Linked DNA regions of Homo sapiens. The protein of the gene in region 4 interacts with the protein of the main gene of each other region in a pairwise test. Each region holds a gene or a part of one and is shown on either strand. Other genes may lie near its edges.

The links.
Region 1: the proteins of EVI2A (region 4) and UBIAD1 interact in binary tests that used the Homo sapiens proteins (3 or more experiments, as listed by UniProt).
Region 2: the proteins of EVI2A (region 4) and MAL interact in binary tests that used the Homo sapiens proteins (3 or more experiments, as listed by UniProt).
Region 3: the proteins of EVI2A (region 4) and MALL interact in binary tests that used the Homo sapiens proteins (3 or more experiments, as listed by UniProt).

Annotation. Positions count from the first base shown.
Region 1 is NC_000001.11:11,276,190-11,283,220, forward strand, and holds part of UBIAD1 (ubiA prenyltransferase domain-containing protein 1), read left to right. Parts: intron 1-2,224; exon of another isoform or gene 2,225-2,684; intron 2,685-2,987; exon of another isoform or gene 2,988-3,086; intron 3,087-7,031. UniProt on the Homo sapiens protein: Prenyltransferase that mediates the formation of menaquinone-4 (MK-4) and coenzyme Q10. MK-4 is a vitamin K2 isoform present at high concentrations in the brain, kidney and pancreas, and is required for endothelial cell development.
Region 2 is NC_000002.12:95,049,707-95,054,522, reverse strand, and holds the end of MAL (myelin and lymphocyte protein), read right to left. Parts: intron 1,143-4,816; coding exon 1,068-1,142; 3' UTR 531-1,067; downstream 1-530. UniProt on the Homo sapiens protein: May be involved in vesicular trafficking from the Golgi apparatus to the cell membrane. Plays a role in the maintenance of the myelin sheath, and in axon-glia and glia-glia interactions.
Region 3 is NC_000002.12:110,084,797-110,091,827, reverse strand, and holds part of MALL (MAL-like protein), read left to right. Parts: intron 1-57; coding exon 58-225; intron 226-4,130; coding exon 4,131-4,256; intron 4,257-5,304; exon of another isoform or gene 5,305-5,395; intron 5,396-6,070; coding exon 6,071-6,133; 3' UTR 6,134-7,031.
Region 4 is NC_000017.11:31,318,623-31,326,540, reverse strand, and holds the start of EVI2A (protein EVI2A isoform 2 precursor), read left to right. Parts: upstream 1-4,918; 5' UTR 4,919-5,046; intron 5,047-6,027; exon of another isoform or gene 6,028-6,109; coding exon of another isoform or gene 6,110-6,168; intron 6,169-7,517; coding exon of another isoform or gene 7,518-7,527; coding exon 7,528-7,918. Other genes in the region: NF1 (neurofibromin), read right to left, coding at 289-721. UniProt on the Homo sapiens protein: May complex with itself or/and other proteins within the membrane, to function as part of a cell-surface receptor.

The DNA.
Region 1 (7,031 bases), on a different chromosome or scaffold from region 4:
GGTGGCTTGTATCTAGCGGGTGGTAGTGGAAGAGGTAAGTAGCCAGATTCTAAATATGCTTTGAAGGTAGACAGGGTTTGCTGATGGATTGGATGTGAGGTAAAGAGAAACAGAGGAATTAAGCATAACTCAAAGGTTTTTTTTTTTCTTGGACACATTCCACATTTTATTTACATTTTCAGACTAACTTTGGGCTGGGTGCTGTGCCTCATGCCTGTAATCTCAGCACTTCGGGAGGCCAAGGCAAGTGGATCACTTGAGATCAGGAGTTCCAGACCAGCCTGGCCAACATGGTGAAACCTTGTCTGTACTAAAAATACAAAAATTAGCCAGGCGTGGTGGCATGTGCCTGTAGTCCTAGCTACTCGGGAGGCTGAGGCAGGAGGATTGCTTGAGCCCAGTAGGCAGAGGTTGCAGTGAGCTGAGATCATGCCACTGCATTCCAGCCTGGGCAACAGAGAGAGGCTCCATCTCAAAAAAAAAAAAAAAAGACCAACTTTAGTTTCAAAATTATATCTCCATATATGTATCCCTTTTTTGTTGATGTCACTTAACCTTAAGTGCATAGTTTGTTAAAAAAAAAAAACTGTAAGCAAATATTTACCATGTCTGTTACGTGTAACACACATGAACAGCTTTTAACAGAAATTCATCAACTCCCCCCCAACATTTTTTATTATAAGATAGGTATCAAAACAATCCTGAACATATTTTTCATACTACTAGTAGTCAGCACCCACACCACTTCAAAAATTAACACATTTGTGCTGGATGTGGTAGTTTTTACCCATAATCCCAACACTTTGGGAGGCTGAGGCAGGCAGATCACCTGAGTTCAGGAGTTCGAGACCAGCCTGGCCAGCATGGTGAAACCCCATCTCTACTAAAAATACAAAAATAAGCTGGGCATGGTGGTGCATGCCTGTAGTCCCAGCTACTTGGGAGGCTGAGGTAGGAGAATCGCTTGAACCTGGGAGGTTGTAGTGAGCCAAGATCTCATCACTGCATTCCAGCCTGGGCAACAGAACAAGACTCCATCTCAAAAAAATAAAAAAAATTAAAAAAATCAAACACATTTGTGACAGTGTTCATTGTACCTGCTACTTTTTTTTTTTTTTTTAATTTAACGGAGTCTTGCTCTGTCGCCTAGGCTGGGGTACAGTGGTGCGATCTTGGCTTACCACAATCTCCGCCTCCCAGGTTCAAGTATAATCCCAGTAGCTGGGATTACAGGTGCCCGCCTGGCTAATTTTTGTATTTTTAGTAGAGACGGGGTTTCGCCATGTTGGCCAGGCTGGTCTCTCTAACTCCTCACCTCAAGTGATCAACCCTCCTTGGCCTCCTAAAGTGCTGGGATTACAGGCGTGAGCCACTATGCCTGGCCAATACCTGCTACTTTTTAAACAATTTCAACTGCAGCTCTCTTTCACTAAGCAAGATGGATAAAGCATGCCATTTCTGTTTTCTTTTTTCTTGAGACAGAATTTTGCTCTTGTTGCCCAGGCTGGAGTACAATGGCACGATCTCGGCTCACCACAACCTCCACCTCCGGGGTTCAAGCAGTTCTGCCTCCGCCTCCCAAGTAGCTGGGATTACAGGCATGGGCCACCACGCCCTGCTAATTTTGTATTTTTAGTAGAGACAGGGTTTCTCCATGTTGGTCAGGCTGGTCTCAAACTCCTGACCTCAGGTGATCTGCCCACCTTGGCCTCCCAAAGTGCTGGCATTAAAGGTGTGAGCCACCTCTCCTGGCCTCTGTTTTCTTTTTCCTTTCCTTTTTTGTTTGAGATGGGGGTCTTACTCTGTCACTCAGGCTAGAGTGCAGTGGTGCGATCTCAGCTCACTGCAACTTCTGCCTCCCGGGATCAAGCGATCATCCTACCTCAGTCTCCTAAGTAGCTGGGACTACAGGCGCGTGCTACCACGCCTGGTTAATTTTTGGATTTTTTGTAGGGACGGACTTTCACTATGTTGGCCAGGCTGGTCTTGAACTCCTGGCCTCAAGTGATCTGCTCGCCTGAGCCTCCCAAAGTGCTGGGATTACAGACATGAGCCACTGTGCCCAGCCCTGTTTTCTTTATTGAGATTTTTAGTCTTTAGAAACACACATGCTTCCACTGCCATCTGACACTTCTTACCACGCTTTCATCTTGTAAACCTGAATTATATTTCGAGTACTCCAAGTTTATGTTTAAATGACAGTACCTTAACAAGAGAAAAAAATTGGGTTGCATTTTTCCTGTTACCTGAAAACATAATGGGTGTACATATATTAAATATATTCTTACAAATGTCCAGGTCATGTTTACCAGCCGGAGTTCTTTTATTTAACGTGTGGGTATTTTGCATTGTGATATTTAATCAAGACATTAACACGAGTAGAAGGTTGTTGATATAAGACAAGTTTGAGATCCACTAAAATTAATTGTTGTATGTTTGTCCTTCCAGTGGCTGTGGAAGCTTCATATTTTCTTTGGACATCATTAGACGTCTTAGCTCCTGAAGTACAACTTTAATGCTATATGAATTTTGTCATTTTGCTAACACTGGTGTGCTGCGGTCATCCACCATCCCACTGGAGTTATTTATTCCATTCATATTAATTCTTGTTACAAATCTAACTGATGGGGGAGCTTCTGGGTATTTGGGTCCACTTTCTATTTTCAGGCTATATATTCTTTTTTTTTATTTTTGAGACAGAGGCTCGCGCTGTGGCCCACACGGGAGCGCAGTGGCGTGATCTCGGCTCACTGCAACCTCTGCTTCCTAGGTTCATGTGATTCTCCTGCCTCAGCTTCCCGAGTAGCTGGGATTACAGGTGCACACCACCACACCCAGCTAATTTTTTGTATTTTTAGTAGAGATGAGGTTTCACTATGTTGGGCAGACTAGTCTCAAACTCCTGACCTCGTGATCTGCCCTCCTTGGCCTCCCAAAGTTCTGGGATTATAGGTGTGAACTGCCATGCCCGGCCTATATTCTCTTTTCATAATTTGTCCTTGGTGGCCCAATAATCATGCCTGTCCACCTTGTAAATGTCATATCTTCATCATCTTTAAGGCCCCAGTTAATCATACCATTGCCTATCAATAGCTGCATAAGCATAACTCAAAGGTTTTGACCTGAGAACTGGAAGATACCATCTGGAGTGATGTCATCATGTGAGAAGGGCAAGGCTGGGGATAGAACAAGTTTTGGGGGAAAAGCAAGCAATTGACTTCGTGGTTTTTTGTTTTGTTTTTTGTTTGTTTTGAGACAGAGTCTCACTCCGTCTCCCAGGCTGGAGTGCAGTGGCATGATCTCGGCTCACTGCAGCCTCTGCCTCCCGGGTTCAAGTGATTCTCAGCCTCCCAAGTAGCTGGGATTACAGGCGTCTGCCACCATGCCTGGCTAATTTTGTATTTTTAGCAGAGACGGTGTTTCACCATGTTGTCCAGACTGGTCTCAAACTCCTGACCTCAGGTGATCCACCCACCTTGGCCTACCAAAGTGCTGGGATTACAGGCATGAGCCACTGCGCCTGGCCAACTTTGGACATCTTAATGTCTATTAAATCTCCTAACAAAGATGTCAAATGGGTAGTTCAAGTTCAGAGAAGCCTGGGCTAGAGATTACATATCTGGGAGTCATTGGTCTATAGATAAAGTTGTAGGACTGGGTGAGGTCATCAAGGGGGAGGGAGTGTTGGTAGAAAAGTCAGTCCTGGTCTGAGCCCTGGGACACTCCCACATTAGAGGTGGGGGAAGAAAAGGCACAGGTAAAGGGGATGTGAGCAAGCATCCAGAGGAGTAAGAGGAAAATCAAAAGGCTGTGGTGGCCTGGCAGCTAATTATAAAAAGTTCAGTGAAGGAAATCAATGAGGTGGTGTAATAGAAAGTACAAGGTGGTGGTGAAGGGAAGAGGCTGTCTTTGTGAAAGTGACGTTCAAACTAGGACTTGAAGACGGAAGGATAAGGAGCTGGCCACGGGGTGGAATTGGAGTCTGATTGTGATGCTGAGTCCTCCAGGGCTGAAGGACCACTAAGTGCAAATGTGGTGGGTGAGAGAGAGTGTGACATTGGCTAGGATCTACTGAAAGGTCTGTGTGAGCCAGAGGGGGCATGAGACACAGTTGGTGAGTTAGGCAGGGTCTCTGTCATGGCGATCTTAACCAGTCCTACTCCCCAACCTCCAGGGCTCAGTCCTTGGGCCTCTTTTCTCTATCTCCATGTACTCCCTTGGTGATGTAGCTCATGGCTTCAGATGCCATCTGTTAAGCTAGTGACTCTTAAACTCCAGACTCATATCCAACTTCTTGCTCAGCAACTTCTCCTAGAACTGTCTCATAAACATCTCAAGCTTAACATGTCTGAGACCAAATTCTGATCTTCTCCCCAAGGAAACCTGCTTCGCCCACAGCTTTTTCCCCATTTTGCTCAATGGCAGCTTCATCCTAGTTCTTCAGGCCAAAAGCTGTGGGCATCGTCCTTGACTCCCACGTCTCACATCCAGTTCATCAGCAAATTCTGTTGACTCTCCTTTCAAAATGCATGTAGGATCTGACCACTTCTTACCGTGTCCAGCCACCACTGTGATCATCTGTCCCTGGATTTTTGCGGCAGGCTCCCAACTGGTCTCTTTACCTCTGTTCTGGTCCCATTCAGGCTGTTCCCACTCAGCCACCAGAGTAATTCTGTTAAAATATAGGGCAGCCCTGTCAGTCCTGCTTAGAACTCTTCAGTGGCTCCCATCTTGCTCAGAGTAAAGGCCAGGGTCTTTACAGTGACTCCCTAGGGCCCTACATTCTTTGCCCACCTTTTGCCCTCCCCCCAGTTCTCTGACCCACCCTCCTCCTTTCTTCCTGCTCATCCTGGGCCAGCCACACTGCCCTTTCTAGTCCAGGAGCATGCACAACCCCTCCTGCCCCTCCCTCAGGTCCTTTGTAGATGCAGCTTCCTCTGTTTGAAATGCTTTTCCTGCTTCTAACCATGTGGTTCACTTTCTCACTTCCTTCACCTATTTGCCCAAATGTCAGCTGCTCAGTGAGGCCTTGCTTTCTACCTTGCTTAAAATTACACACCCACTCCGTGCCCCCACCTGATACTTCCCCTGCTGCTCTTCTCTGCATTAGTTTTCCTCATAGCACATGTTACCTTCTAATGTGCCATATAAAGTACTTAATTGGTTAATTATCTTCCCCCTTCGACTGCGAGCTCCCTCCCTGCAGTCAGGGATTTCTGTCTCTGGTATTAGCTGAACCCCTAGCACCCAGAGCACTGCCTGGCATGTAATATTACTTAGTAAATATCCAGTGAACAAATGGGAAGGCATTGAAATATACTGAGCAGAGTAGTGACATAATCTGGTTTAAGATTTTTTAAACATTGTCTTTTATTGACATATAATTGACACACAGTGAAATGCACAGGTTTTTAGTGTTGCAGCTTGATGAATTTTGATAAATGTATACAGTTGCATAACCCACACCCCGTCATCATCCAGAACACTTCCATCACCCCCAAAAGCTTCCCAGTGCTTCTTGCCTGTCAATCCCACACTCCCTGCCCCCATCCAGAGACAGGAAAAGAACCACTGTTCTGATTCCTCTCACAGAGATTAGTTTTGCCTGTCATATAAATGGAACCTTTCACTATGAACTATGTATGTATGTATGTATGTGTATTTATTTCAGTCTGAGCTCTCGTCTGGCTTCTTTTGCTCAGCGTGATGTTTTTGAGATTCATTGTTTTATTGCGTGTATCAGTAGTTCCTTTTTTTGCTGACTAGCATTCCATTGTAACATACCACAACTTCTTTTTATCCATTCTCCTTTTCAGGGACATTTGGATTGCTTCCATATTTTGGCTATTACGTCTGAACATTCATGTTCAAGTCTTTTTGTGGATATTTGTTTTCATTTTTCTTGGGTAAATGCCCAGGAGTAGAATTGCTGGGTCACAGGGCAGATGATGTTTAATTTTATGAGAAACTGCCAAACTGTTTTCTGAAGTGGTTGTACTTCTTTACACTCCCCCCAGCAAGTGTTCCAGTTGCTCTGCGTCTTGCCAACTTTTTGACTTAAGTCTTAACAGATTCATTCTGGCTGCCGTGTGGAGAACCGGCCCAGTATTTCACTGTGTAAGCTCATTCAGAAAATGGGGTTGGGAGAGGAGGAATGCCTAAAAGGAAATTCCCAGATGGGCCACGTCTCTGAATCAGGTAGAGCACATGAAGCCTTGGGCCATGTATCAAATGCTAGGAAACAGCTTTCTCCCCAAGGGCTCTACTGTTTTCTTGTGTCAGATAACCAGATCTTTTTCCTCCCCAGAGTGGGTTGCTCTTGGTTTTGGGGTGGGGACAGAGATCTCTGCTCAACCTTGCTTACATCACTTTTTTTTTTTTTTTTTTTCAAAAGACAGAGTTTAGCTCTTGTTGACCAGGCTGGAGTACAATGGTGCGACCTCTGCTCACTGCAACCTCTGCCTCCTGGTTCAAGCGATTCTCCTGCCTCAGCCTCCCGAGTAGCTGGGATTACAGGCGTGCACCACCATGCCCGGCTAATTTTTTTTTGTATTTTTAGTAGAGATGGGGTTTCTCCGTGTTGGTCAGGCTGGTCTTGACTTCCTGACCTCAGTTGATCCACCCGCTGTGGCCTCCCAAAGTGCTGGAATTACAGCGTGAGCCACTGTGCCTGGCCTTTTTTTTTCTTGAGACGGAGTTTTGCTCTTGTTGCCCAGGCTGGAGTGCAATGGCACGATCTCGGCTCACCACATCCTCTGCCTCCAGGGTTCAAGCGGTTCTTCTGCCTCAGCCTCCCGAGTAGCTGGGATTACAGACATGCGCCACTACACCCGGCTAATTTTTTGTATTTTTAGTGGAGATGGGGTTTCTCCATGTTGGTCAGGCTGGTCTCGAACCCCTGACCTCAGGTGATCCACCTGCTTCAGCCTCCCAAAGTGCTGGGATTACAGGCGTGAGCCACCATACCTGGCCGCTTACATTGCTTTTTGCCGAGTGATCTAAGGAGGTGTTCTTGGAGACTCCAGCCAAAG
Region 2 (4,816 bases), on a different chromosome or scaffold from region 4:
CCCAGACATCTCAGACTTGAAACATGGCATTCACCCCTTGTCACCGTACTTCCTTTCACTCTGTAATTTCCTCTCCTTTCTCTCCTATGGAGTGGCCCGAGGAAATTCTAAAATAATGTATTATCCACACAATGGGAACAAAGCAGACTGCCCAGGAACACGCTGATGAGCTTCACAATGAGTGAATGAAAACTTGTGCACCGTGTTTTCTTTTGGTGGAAGGAGGTTCTAGTGGGGCACAGACTGTTGTGTCTTGTAGGAAGGAGAAGCTGCCCCTGGCTGGCACTTGGCCAGTTTCCAGAGAGAGGGGAAGCCATCTGGGCAGGTAGCTGGGAGGGTGGGCTCCCCAGCACCGGGCTCTGAGAGTGCAGTGGCCTGGCACACACAGTGTCCGTCGTCTGAACTGCCACCTGATGCTGTCTCTTGAGATTCAGGTTAAGTCAAAGGATTCCTCAGAAAGAAAGCTGAATTGATGGTATTCTTGATGCTGAGGAATTCAACCCAAACCCAAAAAACACCCAACAAATGTATTGAACATTAAGACATTTTATAAAGTATTTCACAGGGTTATCGTCTTCCACCATGGACCTCTGGAAAGATCTGTTGGGTGAGTTTTAGTCCCCATGACATGCAGAACATCCATGAAGACTTAAAACATGGCACAAGATGGGGCGCTCGGGAGAGCTTGTGGACAATACCAACAGGTAGTTCTCGAGAGCTGCTCCAGGGGTCAGCAGAGGATCTTTCTTTCCTTCTCAGGTCACGGTCGCCACTTCCCACCCCCGAACAAGAAGGTCCCCTTTCACAAACAGGAGGTGACCCTAGCAGACAGCACAGCAGTTGGAGGTTAGACACAGCAAGCTCCCAACCCGGACGCGAAGGCACACGGGAGAGTAAACACAGCACCCACGAGCAACAGGGCAGGGCTTTTTTTTTTGGGCAGTGGGGGGGTGGTTGTTTTCTTTTTTCCACCATCAAGGGCATTTCTGTTTTCTAAAAAGTTATGCCGGAAAGTGGGGCGGCCAGTTAACACCATCTGGGTTTTCAGCTCAAGTTCTACTGCGGCTTTATGAAGACTTCCATCTGATTAAAGAGAACACCGCATGGACCACGTAGAGCAGAGTGGCTATGTAGGAGAACACCTGGAACCAAGAGAAATGGCCGTTAATGGGTTTGTGTAGGGAGGGCGAGGCACAGCGTCTGCACTGCATCCAGCCCCACGTGGCGTAGGGGGGGCCAGACCCAGAGAGCTTGGGCTGTCATTGCTTCTCACCCTCACATGGACGCCCTCCCTGCTGAGCCCAGGTGTGCACCAAATCCTCTCAGTACAGAGCTCCATGTGACCTAACAGTCTCCTGGATCTGGTGTGGAAGGTAAGACTCTCCACTATCACCCAGCATCACATTCGTCTCAGCTTGAGGTTTCGGCTGACTTGAGATGGAGTCCTCAAAGACCCCTCCAATGAAAGCATCTCAGGCAGGTAACTCTCCAGGGACAACTTCCTCCCCCAACACCAGTGAGACCAGCGCCCTCCAGCTGTGGTCCTGGTAGCTCGGTTGAGAGATTGTAAATACCTGGGTTTGCTGGCCCTGGTGAAAGTCTCCATGCTGCCTGGACATTCTCACCCTATCATTATTTTGTTTTAGGATTCTTAATATCACAGGTGTGGCTGAGAGAGCCAGACTTCATAGGAAGTGAGGGACAGAGAAGGGGAGAAGGGATTTTGAGCTTTTGTCTAAAGGAGGGGCCTTACTGTTGGGACCATCCAGTCAGCCACTGTGGCCCTTGGAGCGATGGCCCTGCTTTCTGGGGACTTGCTGTGTCCTCCTGGGCACTGTCTGCTCCCATCACCCTACTCCCTGAAGGCCTGCCTGCTGCCAAGTCCAATCTCTGCACCTGGTTTTGTGACCTTGGTTAGGGGTCAAGAGTTTCCAGCTCAGGCACGACGTCCATTTAGGGCGGCTACGCCTCTGTGACTCCTGAAAATGCTCATCAATCCCAGCCCTCAGGGTGCCTGCTCTCCTGCCCCTACACCTGGCCAAGCCCTTTCCCTCATTGCCTGGAGGCGGTGAGTAAGCTGAATTATTGAATAACACATTTAAGAGAACGTATCTGGGCAGGAGCAGTCAGACACCAGTGGGCAGCCCTCCATAAAAGGTGGGCATTCCAGACCAATGAAAGCCTTTGGCAGAAGCACCTTGGAAGTCCCCAGCAGGAAGAGCAGTGGAGACTCATTTTCCAAGTGGGGTCAAGAAATGGCCCACTGGGAACACGTAGAGCTGGGCACGAATGGGCAAATTTTGGCTTCAGAAAGCCCTCTCCCTAAACTGTAGCCATCACTGCCCACCATTGTATAATCTAGAAACCTCCAGATTTCTCCAGAAATTTCCATCTCGCCCCAGGCGACTTCCACCCATCCCTGGGGTCCCTTTGGCAAAGCAGCTCCGCCACCCACAAAGGAGAGAGGGAGGAGCTCAGCTTGGAACAGACCCTAATTAGTAGCCACACAGTGGATGTGAGGCAGGCTGGCTGCTTCCAAAACCAGGCTGTGTGAGAGAGGGTGTGAGGTGCCTCCCTGTACCCAAGTATCCCCTGGACTGGGCATGCTGTGGTTGGGCGGGTCTGGGATTGAATCCTGAGTAACGAACTTCTTTCTCTCTCACAGACGGATGCAGTTGATACCGTGAGTTGAAAGGTGTGACTTTACATCGAACGCCGTGCAGATTTCCCCTTGGTGGTTTTATCTGGGCACATCTGCCAGCTGAGAACACTCTGGTTCTCAATTCTAACGCTCCTGTCTGCGTGAACATATTCGTGTCTATCCAACTCAACTAAAAAAAAATGGGAACATGGTCAGTCATGGGATGGATAAATAGATGTTGGTCTATTCCTACAAGGGAATACTATACAGTAATGAGAACAAACAACCCACATCTACACCCAGCCACTTGGGTGAGTCTCACAAACACAAGGGTGAGAGAAAGAAGCCACACATGAGTACCCACTGTATAATTCCACTTATATGAAGTTCAAAGGCAGGCAAAACTGAACATGGTGCTAGAAATCAGAATTGGGTGGTGGTGGGGGTGCACAGTGATGGGGACAGGACTTGAGGGGATTTCTGGGAGTTGTTTATCAGGCCCTAATTCTTAGTCCAGATGCCAACTACACTGGGGAGTTTGCTCTATGAGAATTCATCAGACTGTGCGCTGGTAACTGGCCCTAATTCTTAGTCCAGACACCATCCACACAGGGAGTTCGCTGTATGAAATCCATCAAGCTGTGGGCTTGTAACTGCACACCTCTCTGGCTGTGTGCTGCCTTTGATAAAAGGTAAAAGAGGAAAGTCAGAAGGCAGTAGAGCCTAGTGGTTCTCAACTAGAGACCTGCCCAGCGGGAAGGGGTGTTCATTCCCCTAGCTGGGTTTTTCCATCAAGTGCTGACCCACTAACCACATCCCATCTACATTTCGCAACCTTTGTTCACAACAATTTTATGGAAATTATTGTCAGACACTTTGTTGATGTTTGTTAAAAGAGAAGGCTTGGCTGGGATGGGGGAGGTATGAGGCAGTCTTGGGAGAGGGAGATGAGATGGAATTGTGTGAAGAAGATGGAGGGTGGCTCACCAGCCTCCCCAGGAAGGAAGATCAGTCAAGATGCCCCCTGGCTGTGCTGCTGCTTGGAAACCAGCCATGTTGGGAGATGGGCCAACACGGGAGATGTTTCCACACCGCGGGACCCCTGGGGGGATGCCAGGATCCTGAGGGGGCCCTTTTTAGGGGAGCGATTGTAGGCTGGGAGCTTGAGGGCAGTGTGTGGTTTCCCCAGGGCAGGGGACTGTGCAAGGGGACCAGCAAGTGAGGCTTTGAGGGATTTTCCCCTGGGGCCCTCCTTCTGGGAGTGGGAAGAGGCACTTCACCAACCCCATTTCTAAAGCCTATCTGTGGGTCTTCTCTCAGCCTCTGCCCTACACTTTCCAAAAAGAGGGGATGACACAGCTTTGGCTACTAGAGCTGGTATCTCAGGATCTGTCACCACATTCTACCTTGGGATTTGCATAATTCATAGGTTAAGTTCTAGAGATCTGAAGAGTGCTCTTTCTGAAACTTCTTACTTTTTAACAATACCCATGGTCAGAAGCATGTTTTATATCGTAGACTGGTGCAAGGGCACACATGCACAGCTCTGAAAAACATGTGATGAAACAATATATTCTGTTACCCTGTCATTCTGATCCAGTCCATTAAGAAGAAAATCCACCTGGCCTCAGCGTCCCCACCCCTGGCTGGATGCTTCAATGGACGACCACTTGGGGAGAGTCAGGAGACCCATGAGGTCAGACTCACAGCCCCAAACTGGTGCTGAGAGTGTGGGGACTGGGCCTCCAGCGTTGATGCCAGGTCCCACAATGACTGGTGATCTTGGGCCAGTCACACTCTCTGGCCCCACTTCTCCATCTGTGAGATGGGTGTCATAATCCTGGGTTGTAGGGTTGCCATGGATGTTAAATAAGATTGTTCAGGGAGCACTCGGACAGGGCGCTGGGCAGCCGCATCCCCTCACACATCTGCCCTCTGCAAAGCCCACGCAGGCCTGGGGCATGCAGCCCTGGCCGGACGACTAAGCGGAGTCTTGGGCACAACATGACACTGCCCTTCTCGGGGGCTTTCCTGCTCCAGGCATGAAGGCAAGGTTTGACCTCACTCAAAAGTTAGTGAACTGAAAACAGACCAAGGGCCTAGGCAGCCTCCACACACACCCTGCCAGCCACGGAGCCGCCCGCTGTGGACACAGCCCCAGGTGCCCGGACTCAC
Region 3 (7,031 bases), on a different chromosome or scaffold from region 4:
GGAAACATACTCCACACTAGCTAATGAAGCCCCTTCTTTTATGCTTTTATCTTCCAGATATTTGGGTTCTTGGTCTGGACCATGGTAGCCGCCACCCACATAGTATACCCCTTGCTGCAAGGATGGGTGATGTATGTCTCGCTCACCTCGTTTCTCATCTCCTTGATGTTCCTGTTGTCTTACTTGTTTGGATTTTACAAAAGATTTGAATCCTGGAGAGTTCTGGTAAGAACCAGCAGCATGGCTCTTCCTGGGTGGACGTTCTGGGTTGGGTGAGGACAATTGGCCTTTCTGGGCAGGGAGGGATCCTGGGCTAGGCTCCTATGGAACCAAGACTTTTTATCTTACCATTTTTACTACCACGCTAAAATGAAGACATTTATCTGCAAGCGTAAATAATTCCTGGTATTCCCCTTCACTGGCTTCCCTGTTAGGAGAATACACAATGACCTGTGATCAAGCATATTCTGATGTGTTTCCCCTAAATTTTCTTCCTGGTAAAATCCTTGGAGCAACACTGAAGAAAAAGCTAGTAGGAAAAAAATCACTCCATTCTCAAGGCCCTAACACAATCCCTGCGACAGGGTATTTCTTCCATATCCCACATGAATTATATGCAAAGTATATATACATATATACGTATATACATATGTATATATGTATATATATGTATATATATACTTTAATTGTACTCTACAAATAATTTTGGATGTAGATGCTTTCATTTAATATTACATCACTAATTTTTATTTATCACGTCATCTCAAAAAACCATTTAAAACTGTTCCACACTGAACAATTGAAGACATATTTAAAAGTACAGAATATTGTATTATAGGCCCTCATGTAGCCATAACCCAGATTCCAGCATTATCAAGACCTTACCACATTTGTTTCATCTAGCCTTTGTCCCCACTAAGGAATTTTAAAGCAAACACCAAACATCATGCCATTCTATTCCACACACTTCAGTATGTTTCCAAAAAAACTCCGCAAACTTTCTCACATTATCACATGTATACGAAGTAAACAATTCCTCAGCATACCTAAGACAGTATACAGTGGTCCCCCATCTCCGGAGGATAAGTCCCAAGACCCCTAGGGGATGCCTGAATCCTCAGAGAGTACTGAACTCCGAATTTGCTATGCATGCACTTCTTTTTTCTTCTTCACAATTTCACAGATAGACAATTCATTCTTACTGTAGATCTTAACAACCTCAGCATATTTTTTTTCTTTCCTTATTAAGCTGAAAACTTATACTTTTTAACTTAAAGAAAGCACCCTATGACTTCTCTTTGGCATATCCAAATTGCCAGCATCACTACTCTTGCAATTTGGGGCCATTATGAAGTAAAATAAGGATTCTTTGAATGCAAGCACTGCAGTGCCACAACAGTTGATCTGATAGCCCAGATGAGTACAAAGCGACTAACATGGGTGGCACAGACAGTGTAGACATGCTAGACAAATGTCTGATTCACATCCCAGGTGGAACAGGGCGGGACAGTGCAAGATTTCATCATTGTACTCAGAAAGGCACACATTTAATTGTTAATTTCTGGAATTTTTCATTTAATATTTCAGACCAAGATTGACTTTGCGTAACTGAAATATACTGATCTTTATTAGTCTGCCATTGCTTACGACATAGATATTACATTAAAAACACTGTGTATTAGTCTATTCTCACATTGCTATAAACAACCAGAGACTGGGTAAATTATAAAGAAAAGAGGTTGAATTGACTAGTTCCTCATGGTTAGGGAGGCCTCAGGAAACTTACAATCATGGTGGAAGGTGAAGGCTAAGCAAGGCATGCCTTGCATGGCAGCAGGAGAGATGGGGGAGGGGGAAGTGCCATACTTTTAAACCATCAGATCCCATGAGAACTCATTCACTATCATGAGAACAGCATAGGGGAAACTGCCCCCATGATCCAATCACCTCCCACCAGGTCCCTCCCTTGATACATGTGGATTACAATAGGAGATGAGATTTGGGTGGGGACAAAGAGCCAAACCATATCATTATACCACTGGCCCCTCCCAAATCTCATCCTTCTCACATTTAAAAATACAATCATGCCTTCTCAACAGTCCCCCAAAGTTTCAACTTATTCCAGCATTAACCCAAAAGTTTAAGTCCAAAGTCTCATCTAAGACAAGAGAAGTCTCTTCTGCCTATGAGCCTGTAAAATCAAAAAGCAAGTTAGTTACTTCCAAGACACAATAAGGGTACAGGCATTGGGTAAATGCTCCCATTCCAAATGGGAGAAATTGGTCAAAACAAAGGGGCTACAGGCCCCATGCAAGTCCTAAACCCAGCTGGGCAGCCATTAAATGTCGACATTCCAAAATCTCCTTTGACTTCATGTCTCAGATTCAAGTCACCCTGTTACAAAGGGTGGGCACCCAAGACCTTGGGCAGCTCCACCTCTGTGGCTCTTCACAGTACAGCCCCTGCAGCTGCTTTCACAAACTGGCATTGAGTGTCTGTGCTTTTTCAAGGTGACCAGTGCAAACTGTCAGTGAACCTACCATTCTGGGGTCTACAGGACAGCTCTTCTCACAGCTGTACTAGCCAGTGTCACAGTGGGGACTCTCTGTGGGGGGTCTGACCCCACATGTCCCTTCTGCACTGCCCTAGTAGAGGTTCTTCATAAGGGCTCCACCCCTGCAGCAGACTCTGCCTGTACATCCAGTCATTTCCATACATCCTCTGAAATCATGGCAGAGGTTCCTAAACCTCAATTCTTGCCTTCTGCATGCCTGTAGGTCCAACACCATGTGTAAGCTGCCAAGGCTTGAGGCTTACACACTCTGAAGCAATGGCCCAAGCTGTACCTTGGCCCCCAGCTGCTGGAGCTGGGGCAGCCGGGTTGCAGAGTGCTGTGTTCCAGGACTGTGCAGAGCAACAGGGCCCTGAGCCTGGCCCACAAAACCATTTTTCCCTCCTAGGTCTCTGAGCCTGTGATGGGAGGGGCTACTGTGAAGATCTCTGAAATGCCCTGGAGATATCGTCCCCTTTGTCTTGGGGACCCTCATTACTCATGAAAATTTCTGCAGCTGACAGCTTGAATTTCTCCCCAGAAAATATGTTTTTCTTTTCTAACACATGATCAGGCTGCAAATTTTCCAAACTTTTATGTTCTGCTTCCCTTTTAAACATAAGTTCCAATTTTGGACCATCTCTTTGTGAATGCATATGATTGTACACTTTCAGGAAAAGTCAGGTCACATCTTGAATGCTTCAATGCTTAGAAATTTCTTCTGCCAGATACCCCAAATCATCTCTTTTAAGTTCAGAGTGCCACAGATCTCTAGGACAGGGGTAAAATGCCACCAGTCTCTTTGCTAAAGCATAGCAAGAGTGACCTTTATTCCAGTTCCCAATAAGTTCCTCATCTCCATCTGAGACCACCTCAGCCTGGATTTCATTGTCCATATCACCATCAGCATTTTGGTCAGAATCATTCAACAAGTCTCTAGAAAGTTCCAAACTTTCCTACATCTTCCTGTCTTCTTCTGGGTACCCCAAACTGTTCCAACCTTTGCCCATTATCCAGTTCCAAAGTTGCTTCCACATTTTCAGGTATCTTTATAGCAGTGCCTGACTCCTGGTACCAATTTTCTGTATTAGTCTGTTCTCACACTGCTGTAAAGAACTACCTGAGGCTGGGTAATTTATAAGGAAAAGAGGTTTAATTGGCTCACAGTTCTGCATGGCTAGGGAGGTCTCAGGAATCTTACAATCATGGTGGAAGGCGAAGGGGAAGCAAGGCACACCTTACATGGCAGCAGGAGTGAGAGAGGGAAGTGTCACACTTTTAAACCATCAGATCTTATGAGAACTCCCTCACTATCACGAGAACAGCATGGGGAAACTGCCCCCATAATCCAGTCATCTCCCACCAGGTCCCTCCCCCAACATGTGGGGATTACAATTCGAGATGAGATTTGGGCAGGGACACAGAGCCAAACCAAATCACACTGCAAAAAAAAAAAAAAAAGGCAGGACTCTAGGGGGCTGGCCTGCCTCATTTGCTCATTCTTTACTGCTATGTAGCCAGAGAGGAAAATGTTCACCTGATTGATGTGGCCATGCGTGGCTCTGCTCTGCATTTCCAGGACAGCCTGTACCACGGGACCACTGGCATCCTGTACATGAGCGCTGCCGTCCTACAAGTACATGCCACGATTGTTTCTGAGAAACTGCTGGACCCAAGAATTTACTACATTAATTCGGCAGCCTCGGTGAGTGGGCTGGCCAAGGACAGCAGTCTTGCCTGGAGGATGTTTCGTGCAGGAGGCCTAACTTTGCTTGTGCTGTATAGACCCTGAGCCCTCAAGTGGAAGGAGCCATGGGGGCAGGGGATAGGGATGTGTGTCCCTGTAAACATGTGCACCCACGTTCAGGGGTCCTCTTTTACCTTCTATTGTTCCCACTCCAGCTTTCCTCTCTCTTAGACACCCCCCACGCTGTCTGCAGAATTTTCTTTTTCCAAAACACAAATTGGAACAGATGTCTCTCTCCTACTGAAAATCCTTCAATGGCACCCACTGCCTTTGGAATGGGGCCCGCATCCCTCGGCATGGCTGAACTATTGAGAGATGAAGCAGGGAAGGGGAAAGTGGAATGTCGAGGTCTCAGGGGAGGAGGCATCAGGGAAGGCCCTGTCAAGAGGACAGAAGGAGGCAGGGGCCACCAGGCAGTTACCCCTGCTAAGGTCCCACCAGGCAGTTACCCCTGCCAAGGACCCTCTGTGTGCTCAAGGGCAGCCAGGAGGGTGGTGTAGCTGGGACAGCTGGCCATGGAGGATTGCAGGGGCCGTTGCTGGTCTTGCAAGTTTAGGAAGTTAAACTCACCTGATGAGGAGGGAAGGGAGGCAGACAGGCCAGAAGGCAGCTGAAATATCTTGTGGCCACCCCAGAGGGTCACAGTGCACTCCACAGTGGGTGGCATTTACCTCCATCTAACCCATGTATGTGCTACTCATCTATCTTGCTGCTATCTGCTTCTTATCTCTCAAATGTAAGCTCCATGAGGGCAGGAATTTTTGAATATTTTCTTCACTGTTATACCCACAGTTGCTCTTGAAGGAAAGCAGGTCCTTAAAAGATATTTGTTGACTGACTGACTGAATGAGGAGCGTGTGAGTGGACAGTGGGGCAGAGTGGGGCTGGGATGTTTGGCAGGGCCTGAAAGGTATTGAAGGTGACGGCCCTACCCTGAGAAAAGAGCAGAGCCATCATACAGCTTCAACGTGGGGCAACGGGATTGTGTTCTCCCCATGAGTGAGAAGTGTCCTCACTTGTCCACTTCTGCCTGCCCTGCCCAAATGGTGGAGCAGATTCGAGGGGCAGGGCAGGAAGAAGTGGACAAGTGAGGCCATGAGGAGTCCTGCCGAGGGATGCCGGTGGCTGAGACAAGGGAAAAATGAATGTCCCAAGAGCTAGGCAGGGAAATCAGTAGCCTTTGGGGTGGCTTTGCATATGGCTGGCAAGGGAGGCAGGAGGAGCCAGGGGCCACAGGGGTCAGGCTCAGGGAGTGGGGCGAGAGGAGGACCCTGGGGCCCACTGGGCTTGTCAGGCTTGTGAGGAAACGTCAGGGGCTCAGTGTGAGCCAGGAAGAGCTGGAGGATGTCTGAACATTCACGAGGAGCTGATAAGCAGCCGCTCAGGGCAGAGTTCTGGGCCAGCGAGGGGAGCTGTAGGAGTGTTCAGAACACAGATTTGCTGGAGGTGGGCAGAGGAGAGCGGGCCTCGGGCAGGAGGTCAGCGTGGGATATGGGCCCAGAGCTGTGGTGGAGGTGAGCCTGCTTCACAGCCAGGTGCAGATGAGGTGGAGACTGCAGTCGGGGCAGGACACCAGGACGGCCCCAGGGAGGCCCTGATGGAGAGTTTCCAGAAGAGGGAGTTGTTGGCCAGGGGTTGCTGCCCTCAGGCCACGCAGGAGGCGAGGAGGCAGGGTCATGCGTGGCCTCCTGGGCAGTGGGGCTGAGGGTACCTGAGGGGTGGGCAGGAGCTGGCGCTGCTGTCTCTAACAGTCACTCTCCACCTCCTTCCAGTTCTTCGCCTTCATCGCCACGCTGCTCTACATTCTCCATGCCTTCAGCATCTATTACCACTGATGCACAGGCGCCAGGCCAAGGGGGAAATGCTCTTTGAAAGCTCCAATTATTGGTCCCCAAAAGCAGCTTCCAACGTTTGCCATCTGGATGACAAACGGAAGATCCACTAAAACGTCCACGGGATTAACAGAACGTCCTTGCAGACTGAGCGATGACACCACACTTTGTTTGGACATTTAAATTCACTCTGCTGAATAGGAGGAAGCTTTTCTTTTTCCTGGGAAAACAACTGTCTCTTGGAATTATCTGACCATGAACTTGCTCTTCTAGACAACTCACATCAAAGCCCTCACTCCACTAATGGAGAATCCTAGCCCCACTAATGCCAAGTCTGTTTGGGGATTTTGCCTCAGCTATGGGCTTCCCTAGAGTAGGTCTAGGGGAATACTCAGTCTGATCTTTTTTTTGTTTGTTTTATTTTGTTTTTTTTGAGACGGAGTCTCGCTCTTCCTCCAAGGCTGGAGTGCAGTGACGCGATCTCCACTCACTGCAGGCTCCGCCTCCCGGGTTCCCGCCATTCTCCTGCCTCAGCCTCCCGAGTAGCCGGGACTACAGGCGCCCACCACCGTGCCCGGCTAATTTAGTTGTATTTTTAGTAGAGATGGGGTTTCACCGTATTAGCCAGGATGGTCTCGATCTCCTGACCTCGTGATCCGCCCGCCTCGGCCTCCCAAAGTGCTGGGATTACAGGCGTGAGCCACCGCGCCCGGCCTGATTCTCTTAAAATTGAAGAGGTGCTGCCAAGGCCTTCAGATCTAACGCAGATGCATAGACCTTGTTCCTGGTACTTGTTCAGCCTGTGCTGGGGAGCCGTGGTCCCGAGTTCCCTGGGAGGCTGACAGGGTCAAGCCACCCTGCCCACCACCCTCCCACTTCCCCTCCCCTTTCCTCTCCAGCA
Region 4 (7,918 bases):
AAGTAGCTGAGATTACAGGTGCCCACCACCATACCCGGCTAATGTTTGTATTTTTAGTAGAGACGGGGTTTCACCGTGTTGGCCAGGCTGGTCTTGAACTCCTGACCTCACGTGATCTGCCCACCTTGACATCCCAAAGTGCTTGGATTACAGGCGTGAGCCACCGCGACAGCCTTACGTGACATTTTATACACCACTATAGGGGTAGGACACCTAGGGAGGCCAGGATATAGTCTAGTTAGTCAAGAAAAGCAATGAATCGTTTACAAAACACAGACTGGAACTTACTTTAATAGAAACTTTGGTGTCTTTGTGAGCTAGCTTGAGAGCATTGTGGAATACCTTCAGGTCCTCTTCTAAAGCCAAGGTGGCAGCAGGTAGTTTCTGTTGTTCATGCTCTATGTGCTCAGCCAGTTTCCCAGGACAGTCTATGAAAACAAGCCTTTTGCTACCTTTGAGGCCAGTCAGCAGCCGCTCATGATACTTGGTGTACTCCCTGACCCAGGAGTTACAGTTATAGATATAGACTGCGGAGACGTTGTCGTAAGCAAAGCCAGGAAAAACAACAAACCACTTAGAGAGAAAGTCTGTTTTAAAGCGATTGCTAGGCCCGGTATGGGTAAGGTCCACTACAATTTCATATGGCTTTGCATAATATGGCTTTAAAGTCAGTAAGACATGGTATATCAGCAAATCACCATTGATTTGACCAGTTTTGAACCTAAGGAAAATGACAAAAAAGACAAAGATTATTAGCAGTGTTTAAAATAAATATACAGATGCCACTAATCAATTTTATTTTATGATTCATTTTCTAGAGAGAATAATATAAAACAATTCTTCAAAGTCTGGATTCATTTTTTAAATCAGTTGTTTTTTGGACACTGAGAAATAAGGCTAAGAGAAGAGACAAATCTCCAATTCAAAAATTTTGAGCCACGACAACAATAAAAAATTTGCCCATGAGTCAAGAAAGGAAGAAAACAGTGGGAATTAGTTGGTTGCCTGCAGGGCCCACCAAACTCCTTAGGCGAATAGTCTGGTAGGAATGACCCATCTGGAGCTCTGGAGTGAGATGGTTTTAGCCAATCCATTTATCCCACCTTGATCACAGACTGATTCAGCAATGAACACATTATTCAAACCAGGACAACCAGGGCCAAAGAGGCCCAGTTCAGGTAGTTTAGCTTAAATTGTTGGGATTTGAGATATTTCTTTCCTGGTGTTTATAAACAAGGGAATACGTAGCCCTAGGAGTTGCTAGCTCATATTTTGGGATATAAAAGAAGAGCCTCCCAAAAGACTGAAGAGAAGGAGCTGAGAAATAGACAAACTGGAACCCTGGCCATATCATTTGTGTATGAGATAAAGCCTCTCCTGGGGTCAAATTTATCCCAGGACTGCTCAGTTACATAAGCCAATAAATACCATTTTTTGATTAAGCCATATTAGGTCATATGTTGCTTAAAACCAAAAGAATACTAATAAATGGGAGCAGCCACAGTGAGGACCATGAAAAAGCCCTGAAGTAATGGTACCAAAGTTTCAAATCAAAACAATCTATGTTAACTTAGGCCCAAAGTTTTCCATATGTGATGATTCTGGTGATAATACTACTAAGTAAGTTAAAATAAATCTTTACCTCAGAGGTTGGTTAATGGATATAAAAATATAATCAGGGCTGGGCACAGTGGCTCACGCCTGTATTCCCAGCACTCTGGGAGGCTGAGGCAGGTGGGTTACATAAGGCCAGGAGTTCGAGACCAGCCTGGCCAACATGGCAAAACGCTGTCTCTACTAAAAATACAAAAATCAGCCAGGCATGGTGGTACATGTCTGTAATCCCAGCTACTTGGGAGGCTGAGGCACGAGAATCACTTGGACCTGGGAGGCAGAGGCTGCAGCGAGCTGAGATTGTACCACTGCACTTCAGCCTGGGCAACAGTGAGACTGTCTTAAAAAAATAATAATAAAATAAATAATATATGTATTGTTAGAATTAGATAGAAGGAACAAGTTCTACTATTCATAGTAAGGTGACTAGTTAATAATAACATTGTATATTTCAAAACAGCTAGACGAAACAATTTCTTTTCTTTGAGGCAATGGATATCCTAATCACCCTGATTTAATCATTACACATTATATGCATGTATCAAAATATCACACATACAGGCAGGGCATGGTGGCTCACGCCTGCAATCCCAGCACTTTGGGAGGCCAAGACGGGCAGATCACCTGAGGTCAGGAGGTCAAGACTAGCCTGGCCAACAGGGTGAAACCCTGTCTCTACTAAAAATACAAAAATTAGCTGGGCGTGGTGGCACGTGCCTGTAGCCCCAGCTACTTGGGAGGCTGAGGCAGGAGAATTGCTTGAACCTGGGAGGGGAGTTTGCAGTGAGCTGAGATTGTGCCACTGCACTCCAGCCTGGGCGATAGAGCGAGATTCCAACAAAAACAAAAACAAAAAAAACCAAAAAAATCACACATACTCCATTAATATGTACAAATTATCATGTATCAATAAAAAACTTCACCTCAGAATTTTTAATCTTGTTGGGAGAAAATAAGATAAAAATATGACAAGTCAAATGATTTTAAAACAACACAAATATTTCAAGATAGAAGATATGAGGTAGAAAGTAATCACTTATCAAAGGAAATGCAGAGAAAATACTGTTATTAAGACAAAGGAGAGAGAGAGAGAGATTAACACAAACTGGGCAGTCAGTGAAAGCTACATAGAAGATACAGTGGCTGAATCAGGTAAGGAGGAATGCAGACTCAGCAAGAGGACTGGGCAGGCCTTATGGAGAAAGGCAAAAAGGAAAAGAAACAGGTAACTAGATGTGTTGAAGAGACAGCTAGTCTAGCCAGAATGGAGGATTCAGGTAGAGAAGTTTTGAGAGATAAAGCTGGGAAAATACAGAATAGTCAAATTGTGGAGAGACCATAACTGCCCAACCAAAGGGCTTAGGTTTTCTACTAGGGGCTCACCATTTCTCAGCATATGTTCTGTGGACTACTGGCGTCAGAATCAACTGTGGTGCTTGATAAAAATGCAGTTTCCTGGTCCCAACCTGGACCTACTAAATATGGATCTATGTAGTGGGGCCTGGAAATTTTTATCTTTTTTTTTTTTCCCTTAACTCAGGCTGGACTGCAGTGGCACGGTCACAGCTCACTGTAGCCTTGACCTCCCCAGGCTCAGGTGATCCTCCCACCTCAGCCTCCTGAGTAGCTGGGACTACAGATAAGCGCCACCATGCCCGGCTAGTTTTTTGTTTTTGTTTTTTTGTATTTTTTGTAGAGACAGGATTTTGCCATGCTGCCCAGGCTGGTCTCGAATTTCTGTGGCTCAAGTAATCCTCCCGCCTCAGCCTCCCAAAGTGCTGAGATTACAGGTGTGAGCCACCATGTCCTGCTTTTATAATTTTTAAACAATCTTCTCATCTGATGTTTATGTACACAAACATTTCTGAATCATTGTTGTATGTATTAGGGAACTGTTCAACCGGTTTTATTTTCCCTTAAAGAAAGGGTGGTATGACCAAAGACAGTGATGTATACAAGATATAAGAAGGATTCAGGGCTACCGAAAAGGCACTGTAGAGTCTAGGTATGACCTGATAAGGATCTAAAATAGTACTGTTGACAGTAAAAACAGGGAAAAAGAAACTGATCCAACAATATGAAGGAAGGACCAACATGATTCAAAGTCTGATCAGGACTGAGAGGACTTAAATTAAAATGATGTGTTGTATACTAAGCCTCTGATATTAGAATGTTGCTATCATGAACAGAAACAAGAAGACTGTCACAGGCAGCCTCCTTTAAAGAAAAAATAAAGTTCTTTTTATTTCATTAATTTAATTAATTTTTAAGAGATGGAGTCTTGCTATGTTACCCAGGCTGGATTTGAACTCCTGGGCTCCACCAGTGATCCTCCTACCTCAACCTACCTAGTAGCTGGGATTACAGATATGTGCTGCCATATCCAGTTCTTTTTTTTTTTTTTTTTTTTTTTTTTTTTTTTTTTGAGACAGAGTCTTACTCTGTCTTCCTGGCTGGAGTGCAGTGGCATGATCTTAGCTCATGCAGCCAAGATCTCATGATCTCTGCAGCCTCCACGTCCCGGGTTCAAGCTATTCTCCTGTCTCAGCCTCCCAAGTAGGTGGGACTACAGGTGCATGCTACCCTGCCTGGTTAATTTTTATATTTTTAGTAGAGACAGGTTTTCTCTATGTTGGCCAGGCTGGTCTTGAACTCCTGGCCTCAAGTGATCTGCCTGCGTCAACCCTCCCAACGTGCTGGGATTACAGGTGTGAGCCACCGTGTTCAGCCCATACCTAGTTCTTAAAGTCTGTTTCAGTCATGTTAAACTTGAGGTGATGACAGGATGTTTGACAGTTGTGTGTGTGTGTGTGTGTGTGTGTGTGTGTGTGTATACACACACTACACCACACGAAAGCATTTTCTGTCCCATATAATCTAAGTTTACTAGATATTTTCTCAAATAATTGCTGCAGTTCCACAATTGTTACATTATCTGATCAGTATCCCATGGACTCCAAACTCACATTTTCAAATCAGTCTGTAGATTTCAAATAAGTCTTTTAGAGAAGATTTGAAATGGAAGATACCATTTCAAAACCTCTTTTGAATGACACTAAAGCATGTAGCAGGCCTATAGAATGAGCATACTGTCAAAAGGCATTAAGTGGAAAACCCTCCCTGCTCTGGAGGCGGGGATTGGTTCTACAAAGCCTCCTGTCATGCCAGTGGCCAACTAGAGAAGTTGGAGCTTTTTCGTTGTTTTTTTTTTTTTCCCTCCTGTGACATGTGCTTTAGTTGCAGTGGAAAGGAAATGTGTCATCTGTGGTTTGGTTTTAAAAGTGGAAAACTAGCTGCACATATCCTTTTTTACTGCAGATTTACTTTAAGGCTCATATTCTCCAAGTCTATTCTGCTTTAAAAAGAAGACAAGAAAAGAAGTGGTTTATCAAAATCACGTTATAATCAGATTTTGACCAAGCATTTTGTAAGGTAGGTCATATATATACGGCTTTTCTTATGCCTTTTCACTTCTAACGTCTGACAGATTAGTGTTCGAGGAAATGCTATCAAAGTGTGTAAGAATCTCACTAACAAACTAGAATTGTGACTGAAAATGTATACTTTTTTTTTCTGTCCTGTTACATAAATTTTAAGTTAGAAATGAAAAAATTTGCCATCGCCATGGAGTTTTAAATTAGGATTACGAAGGATCTAAGTTTGGTTTCCTCAAGTAAACTGGAAATGTTTTGTTATTTTTCAAAAGTTAAAAAATAAATTTCTCATTACTAATGCTTGGACATTACAAATTCTACTGAAAATAAATTCTACTGAAAATGATCAGATATAAGAAAACTTCTGATAACACAACCTGGCCTCCAAGGCATAAACTGGAGTAAAAACAGTCCTCAATTCTCAGGCATTTGTAAGGGCAAGAGAAAGTCTCATTTTGTCATACAGTTTGTTTATTTGGGCACTGCAGTACATCTGGCTGAAGACAATCAACAGCAGGCCTATTATCTGTTCCGTGGTAAGCACTGTTAAAATGTGTACCAATACTATGATGTATACTACACTGTTAATGAACTAATGTGAAAAGAATAATCTACTTTAAATCATTCTAGCATCTAATACAGAAGTCCAGTCTAGTATAAAAAGATGGAAATTACTTGCTAATCCAATTTCAAGTATTTCTTTTTGTGGAAGAATCATGAAATATCCAAAGATTTATGTCACTAAACTTAAAAATTAAAGCTGAACACTATTATACAAAAGCCAGTGACTTGGGCCTTTAATTGTCTACTAAAGGTCATAATCTAAAAAGTAATCTTAATCCTGGAATATTTAATAGTTTTTCCTCCCTACTATTAATATGAAATATAGTCTCCAGTTAGCATTGTTTATTACATGCTACTTTTGTTTGCATAACTCAACGTATCACATTTCTTATTTTCAATTTCTGTATTTTAATAGTATACAAATGTCAGCCAATGACATATAACAACCATTTCTTATAAAACCTTGATGTTCAAAAGCCTGACTAGCAGTGGCATCCATGTTGCTTAGGAGTTGGTTTGGAAACAAAGACTTTCAGGCCCTACCTATACTAGCTAGGTAAGAATCTGCCTTTTTTTTTTTTTTTTAAATAAAAGGACTCCTAAGTACATTTGAGAAGAATTTCTATAGCATACGTAGGGTTCTTAACCAGGCAATTTCATTTAGTAAATCTCAGGAGAACAATATAGTTTTGCTTTTAGTTCATTCAAATAAATGCTAACAATAAAATACTCCTTTCAAAAGTAGCTCAAGACAAACTGGTATATTATTATAAGATACCTTAATAATGATTATAAATCTTTCCTGCTGGGTTAGCAGTACATGGAACTGTTAAATTCTAAGATATGCCATTTCTATTTAAATCAATCATTTGGTAGATTTAAAAAATGTATAATATAACTTGTCTCCTTTTTGTACTAGTTTCCAGCAAGCTCAGGGCCAAAGCGGAAATTCAACATTTTCAATTATCTGTTGAGATGCTTATAACCTGCCACTTCATCCCAAATCATCAAGATCCTGATGCTCTATTTCTATTTTATTACACATTTTTTTTTACAATTATGTCAAAATCAGAAAAAATGCTAGGTATAAATGATGCTTTAAAAGAAAACCCAGCAACTTTTGTTGAACTTTTAAGTCTACTCAGAGGAAATTTGCTGTTTTTTTTTTTTTTTCTTCAGATTTTTAGGTTGAGAAAACTGGTATGCCTTTGCCTTCAGAAAGACACAGTCAGTCCAGGGAAATATAAATGAAAAGAGACAACCACCACAGTAAAATTGCGTTCACAAATACACTTACAAATGTATTTCTAAGTACCAGCTTTATTCTAAGCTTCAAGATGAACACCCAAGAAAAAAAAAGAACACCTTGAATTTCTATTTGAAGTTCAGTTTCTTTTGGTTGCTACCAAACTTCCCCTCTTTCCACCAAAAAAATTTGCATTTATTTCATACATGAAGCAAGAAGCTCAAGGCCACATTTCTTCTGTAAAGATTGGTGACAGGTTAGAGGGTGGGTAGTTTCTGTAAGAATGATCCTTAATTTTTTTTTTTTTTTAAAGAAGGAATCAGAAAAGTAAAAGCAGAACTAACTGACTCAAAGCAGAAGTCTAGCACGCTTCAAAGGAAGAAAACTATATAAAGCCATGATAGTCCACTTAAAATGATTAATATTTATTTGTAATGCTAACTTCTAGCATCTAAAAGTGTTAATAGAAATTAAAATGCTTCTTCATACATAGCTGAATAGAAAAGAAATTTAGTTGAGAAGGAATTCAGGGTAGCGAATATTAGGCATAAGCTTGTAGTTTACTTGTAACATCTCAACACTATCTTTTAACTACAATTACCAAAACTAGGATCCATTATTCTTTCACAAACTAACAAATTATATTGCTATCCCAACAGATTGCCAAGCATGCCCACGGACATGGAACACACAGGACATTACCTACATCTTGCCTTTCTGATGACAACAGTTTTTTCTTTGTCTCCTGGAACAAAAGCAAACTATACCCGTCTGTGGGCTAACAGTACTTCTTCCTGGGATTCAGTTATTCAAAACAAGACAGGCAGAAACCAAAATGAAAACATTAACACAAACCCTATAACTCCTGAAGTAGATTATAAAGGTAATTCTACAAACATGCCTGAAACATCTCACATCGTAGCTTTAACTTCTAAATCTGAACAGGAGCTTTATATACCTTCTGTCGTCAGCAACAGTCCTTCAACAGTACAGAGCATTGAAAACACAAGCAAAAGTCATGGTGAAATTTTCAAAAAGGATGTCTGTGCGGAAAACAACA